Homo sapiens: one gene and its partner. The protein of the gene in region 1 interacts with the protein of each later gene in a biochemical or structural test. Each region holds a gene or a part of one and is shown on either strand. Other genes may lie near its edges.

Evidence for each region. The genes of interacting proteins can lie anywhere in the genome.
Region 2: the proteins of FBXL17 (region 1) and SPAST form a complex in vitro, tested with the Homo sapiens proteins (one study listed by BioGRID and IntAct).

What each region holds. Positions count from the first base shown.
Region 1 is NC_000005.10:108,375,120-108,379,098, forward strand, and holds part of FBXL17 (F-box/LRR-repeat protein 17), read right to left. Parts: intron 1-3,979. UniProt on the Homo sapiens protein: Substrate-recognition component of the SCF(FBXL17) E3 ubiquitin ligase complex, a key component of a quality control pathway required to ensure functional dimerization of BTB domain-containing proteins (dimerization quality control, DQC).
Region 2 is NC_000002.12:32,118,803-32,122,781, forward strand, and holds part of SPAST (spastin), read left to right. Parts: intron 1-3,979. UniProt on the Homo sapiens protein: ATP-dependent microtubule severing protein that specifically recognizes and cuts microtubules that are polyglutamylated.

The DNA of each region.
Region 1 (3,979 bases):
AAAGTGGGAGGACTGCTTGAAGCCAGGAGTTTGAGACCAGCCTGGAAAACATAGCAAGACCCTGTCTCTACAAAAATTATTTAAGAAATTAACCAGGCATGCGCCAGCATGCCTGTGCACCCAGCTACTCAGGAGGCTGACAAGAGGGAAAGTCACTTGAGCCCAGGAGTTTAAGGCTGCACTTCCATTTACATAGCTATAAGCTATGATCACACCACTGCACTCAAGCCTGGGTGACAGAGACCCTGCACACACACACACACACACACACACACAAAATTGGCTAGACTAAGAATAAAGAGAGAAGACTCAAATTTTAAAATCATGTATAAAAATGGGAACATTAATATCAACCTTACAAAAAGTACACAATTATAAGAGAATACTATAATTGTATGCTACCAAATTGATGAAATAGATGACAAATTCCTAGAATATAAACTATAAAAACTGACTCAAAGGAAATAGAAAATCTGAGTAGATGTACAGCACGTAAAAAGATGGAATATGTAATAAAAAACAAAAAACTTACAACAAAGAAAAGACAAGGACCAGATGGCCTCACCAGTAATATGCTTCAATAAGAATGAACACCAATCTATCTTAAATTCTTCCAAAAATGAGAGGATGGGATACTACTTCCCAACTCATGCTATAAGGCCAGCATATCCTGATACCAAAGCCAGGCAAAGAAATCTCAAAAAACTACAGACCAATGTCCCTTATGAATACCGATGTGAAAATCTTCAATAAAATATAAGGAAACTAAATCCACAGTATAGTAGAAGGGTTATACACCATGACCAAGTAGGATTTATCCCAGGAATGCAAGGATGGTTCAACATATGAAAAAAACCCATGTAACACACCATATTAATAGAATAAAGGTAAAAAGCAAAAACAAAACACATGATCATCTCAACTGATTCAGGAAAAAGCACTGGACAAAATCTAATACCCTTTCTTGATTAAAACATTCAGAAATATAGGAATAAAAGAACACTTCCTCAACCTGAGAAAGAGCATCTACCAATAACCCCTAGTTATCATTATACTTAATGGTAAAAGTCTAAAAGTTTTTCCCCAAAATCAGAAACAAAACAAGGATTTCTGCATCATGACTTCTATGCAACATTGTACTGGAGATTCTGGCTAGGGCAATTAGACATGGAATATAAACAAAAGGCATCCAGATTGGGGAGCTGGAATTAAAACATCCTCTATTCACAGATGTCATGGTCTTATATAGAGAAAATCCCAGAGAATAAACACAAAAATTAATTTTAGAGCTAATAAGCAAATATTTTTATATACTAGCAATGAATCATCTGAAGATGAAATTAAGAAAGCACTTCCATTTATAATAGCATCAAAAAGAATAAAACTTTTTTTACAGCTCTCATTTCTTTATTGAGATTTCCAATTTGTTGGGTCAATGTCATCATATTCTCCTGTAATTATTTAAATAATGTTTCCTTTCTTTTACCATGTTTATAATAGCAGTTTGAAGTCTTTGCTAAGTCTAATATCTAGGCTCACTCACAGTCAGTTTCTATTAACTGCTTTCTTTTTCCCTCAGCATGGGTCACATTTTTCTGTCTCTTTACGTGTCTTAAAATTTGTTGTTAAAAACTGGACATTTTGGATAACATAGCCAGTGTATATTCTTTTTTTTTTTTTTTTTTTGAGACAGAGTCTCACTCTGTTGCCAGGCTGGAGTGCAGCGGTGTGATCTCGGCTCACTGCAACCTCCACCCACGGGTTCAAGCTGGGATTACAGGCGTGAGCCACCGCACCTGGCCACCAGTGTAGAATTTTATATTTCTGAGCCTTTTAACATGTCTGGCCCTAAACTGTGGAATCTGTGTCCTGGGCAGTGTGACTACATCTGTTCAGATTTTAATTCACATATATATGTTTTAGCCTGGCTTTCTAGAGAAGTCATTCTGTGTCTGAATATCTTAGTTTTCAGCTATGTACATGCCAAAGATATGCTCAAACAGCTTGAGCCTGCTCTTTAATCTGTATCTGGGTTAAGAAGGGCACATTCAAAGCTTAAAGAATTCTCATCTGCCTTGGCCCTTGCTCTCAGTTAGACAACCTCAGGTCTCCCCTACACATGTGCATAGTTTCACGTTATGCCAGGATATGTGAAGAGGTTATCCCTTTATGGTTCTCTCATTTCCAGGGTCTGCCTTTTAATTTATAGCTACTCTTCCACTCACCCCAACTGGCACTACAACCTTAAACTAGCAAATACATGGTTTTTCCTTGTTTTCCCCTACCAAGTTCAGTACATTTTATCGACAAAGGTTTTTACTCATTGCCCCAAATTGAATCAGCTGTCTGACAGCGAAGCTGCTGGTTTTCCAAACTACAATTCTTGCCAAAAGTGCTGGGACAGGAGGTCACAGTAGAAGCCCACGCGAGAATGCTGTAGACTTGCACTATTCTTACCTGAAGATCTAACAGTTTTCCTAAGAATAAATGTTTCTCAATGATTTTCTTTGCTTTTGGTTGATTTCCAGAGTTCAAATAGTTTTGGGCAATTCTGCCATTTTTATACTTGTGTGTGGAAAGGATTCACCAAACTCTTCATGCAGCCACAGGTGAAAGTACATTTCTTGCGGATATTTTTATGCTTGTCCTCCTCATTTTATAAATGAGAAAATAAAAACTTAGATGGCCTAGATCATTTTTTAAGGTTAAAGGACTATGTGGTCTTAAAGGGCTAATTTGTCAGTTAACAATCAACATGTAGGGCATGGTCACTGCAACCAAGTAGCATCTTGTTTGAAACCTGCCTGACTTTAGCTATTATCTTTTATATAAAAGTGATATGGCTGTTATAAACCACAAGTCATTGACTAAATCCAGATTTGTTTATCCAAGTGAAGAAATTTAAGATGTGGGTAATAAGCATAAAATAGGATATTTTGCCAAAGGCAAACAACTTGTTAAAGAAACTATTATATTAAAATGCATTTTTGACTGCTTTAAAGCAGGTAATATTAACCTATATAAAAGAGAAACATCCTTGTTGATATTGAGCCAAAAATTAGCCTATGATGCAACATATAGTTTAGTTTCTCTCCTCTGCCATAAAAAAAAAAAAATGGGCAAGTATGGTAGCTTTCCCAAAAAACATCCTTTAAATTCTTAAACATCCTCACATTTCTCTCCCAAATTCTACCTGCCTCGTTTTTGTTTTTTGTTTTTTTGTTTTGTTTTGTTTTGTTTTTACAGCTATAGTAACTTCCTAGCATAAAAGATGAAGCAAAAGCAATACAATTATAATAGCTATTGACTCCCTACCAGGAGAACAGGGCATAATTTCTAAGAATGTTTTCCAATAGTGATGATAGACTTGTGCCTCTCTACGCAACCCTTCTAATATTAGAAAAGAAAAATTGTCATAGCTCCATAAGTCTTCCCTTCTCCAAGTCAAACAACTCCAGTCCTTACCAGCAGAGCCAGAATCCTTTCACCACCACATGGCTCTACCGTGGCTCCAACAGCAACTCCAGTCAGAATATGGACATTCCTTAGAAATATCTCTTCGTGGTGTGGCGTATTCACCCTGAGTCTCAGCACAGACTCTAAACACCTGATGATACATTCGTTCGTAAGTATTTACTGAGCGCTACTATATGCCAGACACTGCACTTAAAGGAGGAGACAGAGCAATGAACAAGATTACGAATCCAGAGTCGCTGCACCCAAAAACTGGGGTTGGCAGACACTGAACAATCGCTAATTCAATTCATCCCAGACAGTACAGCTCACTTCGTGCTGAATACCACTAGGACCATCAGACTCAGACAGAGAATCTTTATTAGAATTTTCTAATACAAGGAATGGAAATCTACATAACATGTCCAAATACACACAATAGGGCAAGCCCATGGTAATTCCCATATGTCCTTTAGACAAAGTTTTCAACAATCCTCAGGAAAAAATATGAAAGAGAACAACGCGG
Region 2 (3,979 bases), on another chromosome or scaffold:
GAAAAATATATCTAAAATTGTGAAGGTAATACCAAGGAAATATTTAGGCTATGCAAGAAAAGTCATTCAGCTTTTGCTTTACCCAGGCCTATAGAGAACATATCTAAAATAATAAGTAACATGTGAATTTGAATTTAGGCATATTTTCATGGTAGTGACATAATGTGCAATTAAGAAGCTATAATAATGTAAAAATGCCAGTTGCAAGTTATTTCAAATAAAGTTGAATAACCTGACCTCAGGAGGGGCAGAAACCTTAGTAAACTTAGCAAACTGAGACCTAAGGAAGAGCAAGATCTGTGGTAGAGCCAGGTCTAAAGGTTTATATCCTGGTACAAACTTGTCTATACATCACCACACCTGCCAAATGGAACTTTTTTTCCTTGTAGTTCAGATTTCCAAGAAAGGGAATATTATTGTCCTAGCTCAGCGTTTCACAATAGACTCACAAAATGAATCTTGTTAAGCCTATGAATGGGTAAGACTTATCCCATAACACGCCTCTATTGTGTAAAAAAATCAGCTTTATTCCTAATTCCCTGTAGTAGGAAGCTTGCATAGACCACAATAGAGACATTGTTAGATTATATCAAGAAGGTGAGTGGCAGGCATTCTTGAGTATACTGGAATTTTTATTTCATTGTAGAAACACAGAATCATAATTAGTCATCTAAAACTGGTTTTAAGGAGATAATACTAAAGATACTCACTTGAGGTAGATTGTTCTCAGAATTACTTAAAATAAGTGCTTTAAATCTTGCTCATTCATGAAGCCATAGCCCTGGAAGGAGATATTGAAAAACTTCTCCATCTTCCTTCAATCCCATAGGACCATGTTTTTAATTGTAGTTTAACATTAAACATAATTTTTGAAAGTAGCCAATATTAATCTTTGACAAAAAACTCAAACTAAATAGCAGAAAATAGAACATGCCCTCTCCTCTCGCCCAAAAGTAAGACTACATTTTAAAGTATATCACAGTGATCTGTCTAAATATTTTTCTCAAATATTTTACTAAGAAAGCGTATATTCTTCTGTCCTTATTTCATAGATCTCTTCTGTATCCTGTGCAGCTTGTCTATCATTTCGAGCTTTTATATTTCTTATTTTGTTCTCTTGCTGCTTAAATGTGATTCTTTGAGATTTATAGAAGAATGTGATTGTTCTCCAGTTTTAAAAAGCTCTTCTCTATCTACTAAAATTTCCATGAATTTCTTTCTTTCTTTTTTTTTTTTTGATTGAGACAGTCTCGCTGTGTTCTCCAGCGTGGCCTTAGGCTTAAGTGATCCTCCTGTCTCAGCCTCCCAAGTAGCTGAGATTACAGAAATTTCCATGAATTTCCAAATATGATGTTATCTTTCATATAAGCTTAAACATAAGCCTTTCTTCTTTCAAAAATGTTAGAACTTACCTCTTTAAATAATCTTATAAAGCCATTTCTTAATTTTTGTTACCTTTTCGAATCTATTAACTTGCATATCATAGTAAATGAACCCTTAGCTCCATCATACCACACACCTTCTACTCCTGTCCTCCCACTTTTTCTCACCCAGGCTGGAGTACAGTGAATATTTAGTGCTTTTAAATATTATTCATTACCAAGCCAAGTAGCGTACTATTTTTTCCTTGTACAGCCTTTTTTTCCCCTAAATAATTGTGTTATTTTTTCATTTGCTTCATTTTCATCTTATCGATTGATAATTCTTCTGTTCCATTTCAGTCTAATTTCCACATGGCCAAACCAATCTAAAAACCTGTTAACTCAGGTCTTTTTTTTTTTTTTTTTTCCCAGAATACCTTTTCCTGGAACCACCTTCTTCTTTTCATTCGAGACCAAATGCTTTCCATGCCTGTGTCAAAGTGGTTGTTCTCTAATCTGTCTTCACTACCATCATAATTTCCTTTTCCTTTTTTCCTTTCTTTATTATGTATCTCCTGTCTTTTAAATTCCATATTTTCCACTTTCATGATTTATTTTCTCATTTTGATGGCTACATCTTTCAGTAACTGAGAAAAGGTTGTGTGAGGGAATATTTTGAGATGCTGTAGTTTTGAAAATATCTTTATTCTGCTGTCTTCTCATTAATAATTTGACTGGATGTCAAGATTTAAGTTGGAAACTATTTTCCATGAGTATTTTGAAGGCATTATCTATTGTCTTCTAGCTTCCAGTGCTGCTTTGTATTAGAGACAGAAGATCAGGAATCAGGATAGCATTGGACTTCTTATTTCTATTTCCCAAAGCTTTTTGGATCTTCTCTTTATTCTTATCTTCTGATATTTTATAATGATATGCTTGATGCATTTACTTTTTCTTTTCTTCTTCCCTCTTGTACATTTCTTTCTTTTTTTAGGTGGGGGCAGGGGGGAAGGAGTCTCACTCTTCTCACCCAGGCTAGAGTGCAGTGGTGCAACCTCAGCTCACTGCAACCTCCACCTCTGGGGTTCAAGCGATTCTCCTGCCTCAGCCTCCCGAGTAGCTGGGATTACAGGCATCTGCCACCACGCCCAGCTAATTTTTGTATTTTTAGTAGAGACGGGGTTTCAGGCTGGTCTTGAACTCCTGACCTCAGGTGATCCGCCCTCCTCAGCCTCCCAAAGTGCTGGGATTAGAGGCATGAGCCACTGCGCCCAGCCCCTCTTGGACCTTTCTAGATATTCATCCTTCAATTCTGAGAAAGGTTCTATAATTCTTTAATTTAAAAAAAGTTTTTTTGTTTCATCTTTCTCACTTTTTTTTTTTTTTTTTTTTTTTAAGACACAGTCTTGCTCTGTCACCCAGGCTGGAGTGCAGTGGTGCGATCTCAGCTCACTGCGCCCTTCGCCTCCTGGGTTCGAGTGATTCTCCTGCCTCAGCCTCCCAAGCAGCTGGGATTACAGGTGCCCACCACCACCATGCCCGGCTAATTGTTGTATTTTTAGTAGAGACGGAGTTTCACCATGTTGGCCAGGCTGGTTTCAAACTCCTGACCTCAGGTGATCCACCTGCTTTGGCCTCCCAGAGTGCTGGGATTACAGGCATGAGCCACCGTGCCCAGCCCTATTCTGATTTCATAGATGCAGTGTCTTTTATGTCTCTGAGAGGTTTTGTCAAGTTTTCTTTTGTTTACTTTATTATCTGTTTCTTCAAGATTCCTCCTCTTTTCTTTTTGCCTTAAGCTTTTTCATATTGGAAGCTTCTCTCAAATGTCTGGTTATTCTGGTTGTCCACTTATATTACGTGGAACAATAAAAAAGTTGATTAGGACTCTGTGCTGTAAGTAAGTAAATTGTTGATAGTGAGAGCCCATTAATCACAGGATGATCAAGCAGCAAGCCTACTGTTTATTTGGGTTTCTCCAAATGGCTATAGCTGTCAGTCTTTTTTTTCTGGGGTTATTTGGCTTCTCTAGAAAAGAATTTTCTAGTCTCTTGTTTGGAGAATACAAGCTTGACTATTGGTGTTCCAGAAAATGGGTGGGAGGAGACGACTTTGTTTTCTGTTAGGTTGAGCCATGTGAAATTACTAGGTTTTGTTTTGTTTTCTGTTTTGTTTTGAGACAGAGTCTCACTCTGTTGCCCAGGCTGGAGTGCCTTAGCATGATCTTGGCTCACTGCAACCTCTGCCTCCCAGGTTCAAGCAATTCTCATGCCTCAGCCTCCCAAGTAGCTGGGATTATAGGCATGCACCACCACGCCTGGCTAATTTTTGTATTTTTAGTAGAGACGGGGTTTTGCCATGTTGACCAGTCTAGTCTCGAACTCCTGACCTCAGGTGATCCACCTGCCTTGGCCTCCCAAAGTGCTGGGATTACAGGTATGAGCCACCACACCTGGGCTGAAATTACTGTTTTTATAGGTCAAAAACAGTTGAGGGATAGGCATGGTGGCTCCCACCTATAATCCCAGCACTTTCAGAGGCCAAGGCAGGAAGATTGCTTGAGTCCAGGAGTTCGACACCAGCCTGGGCAATGTAGTGAAACCCCATCTATATTTAAA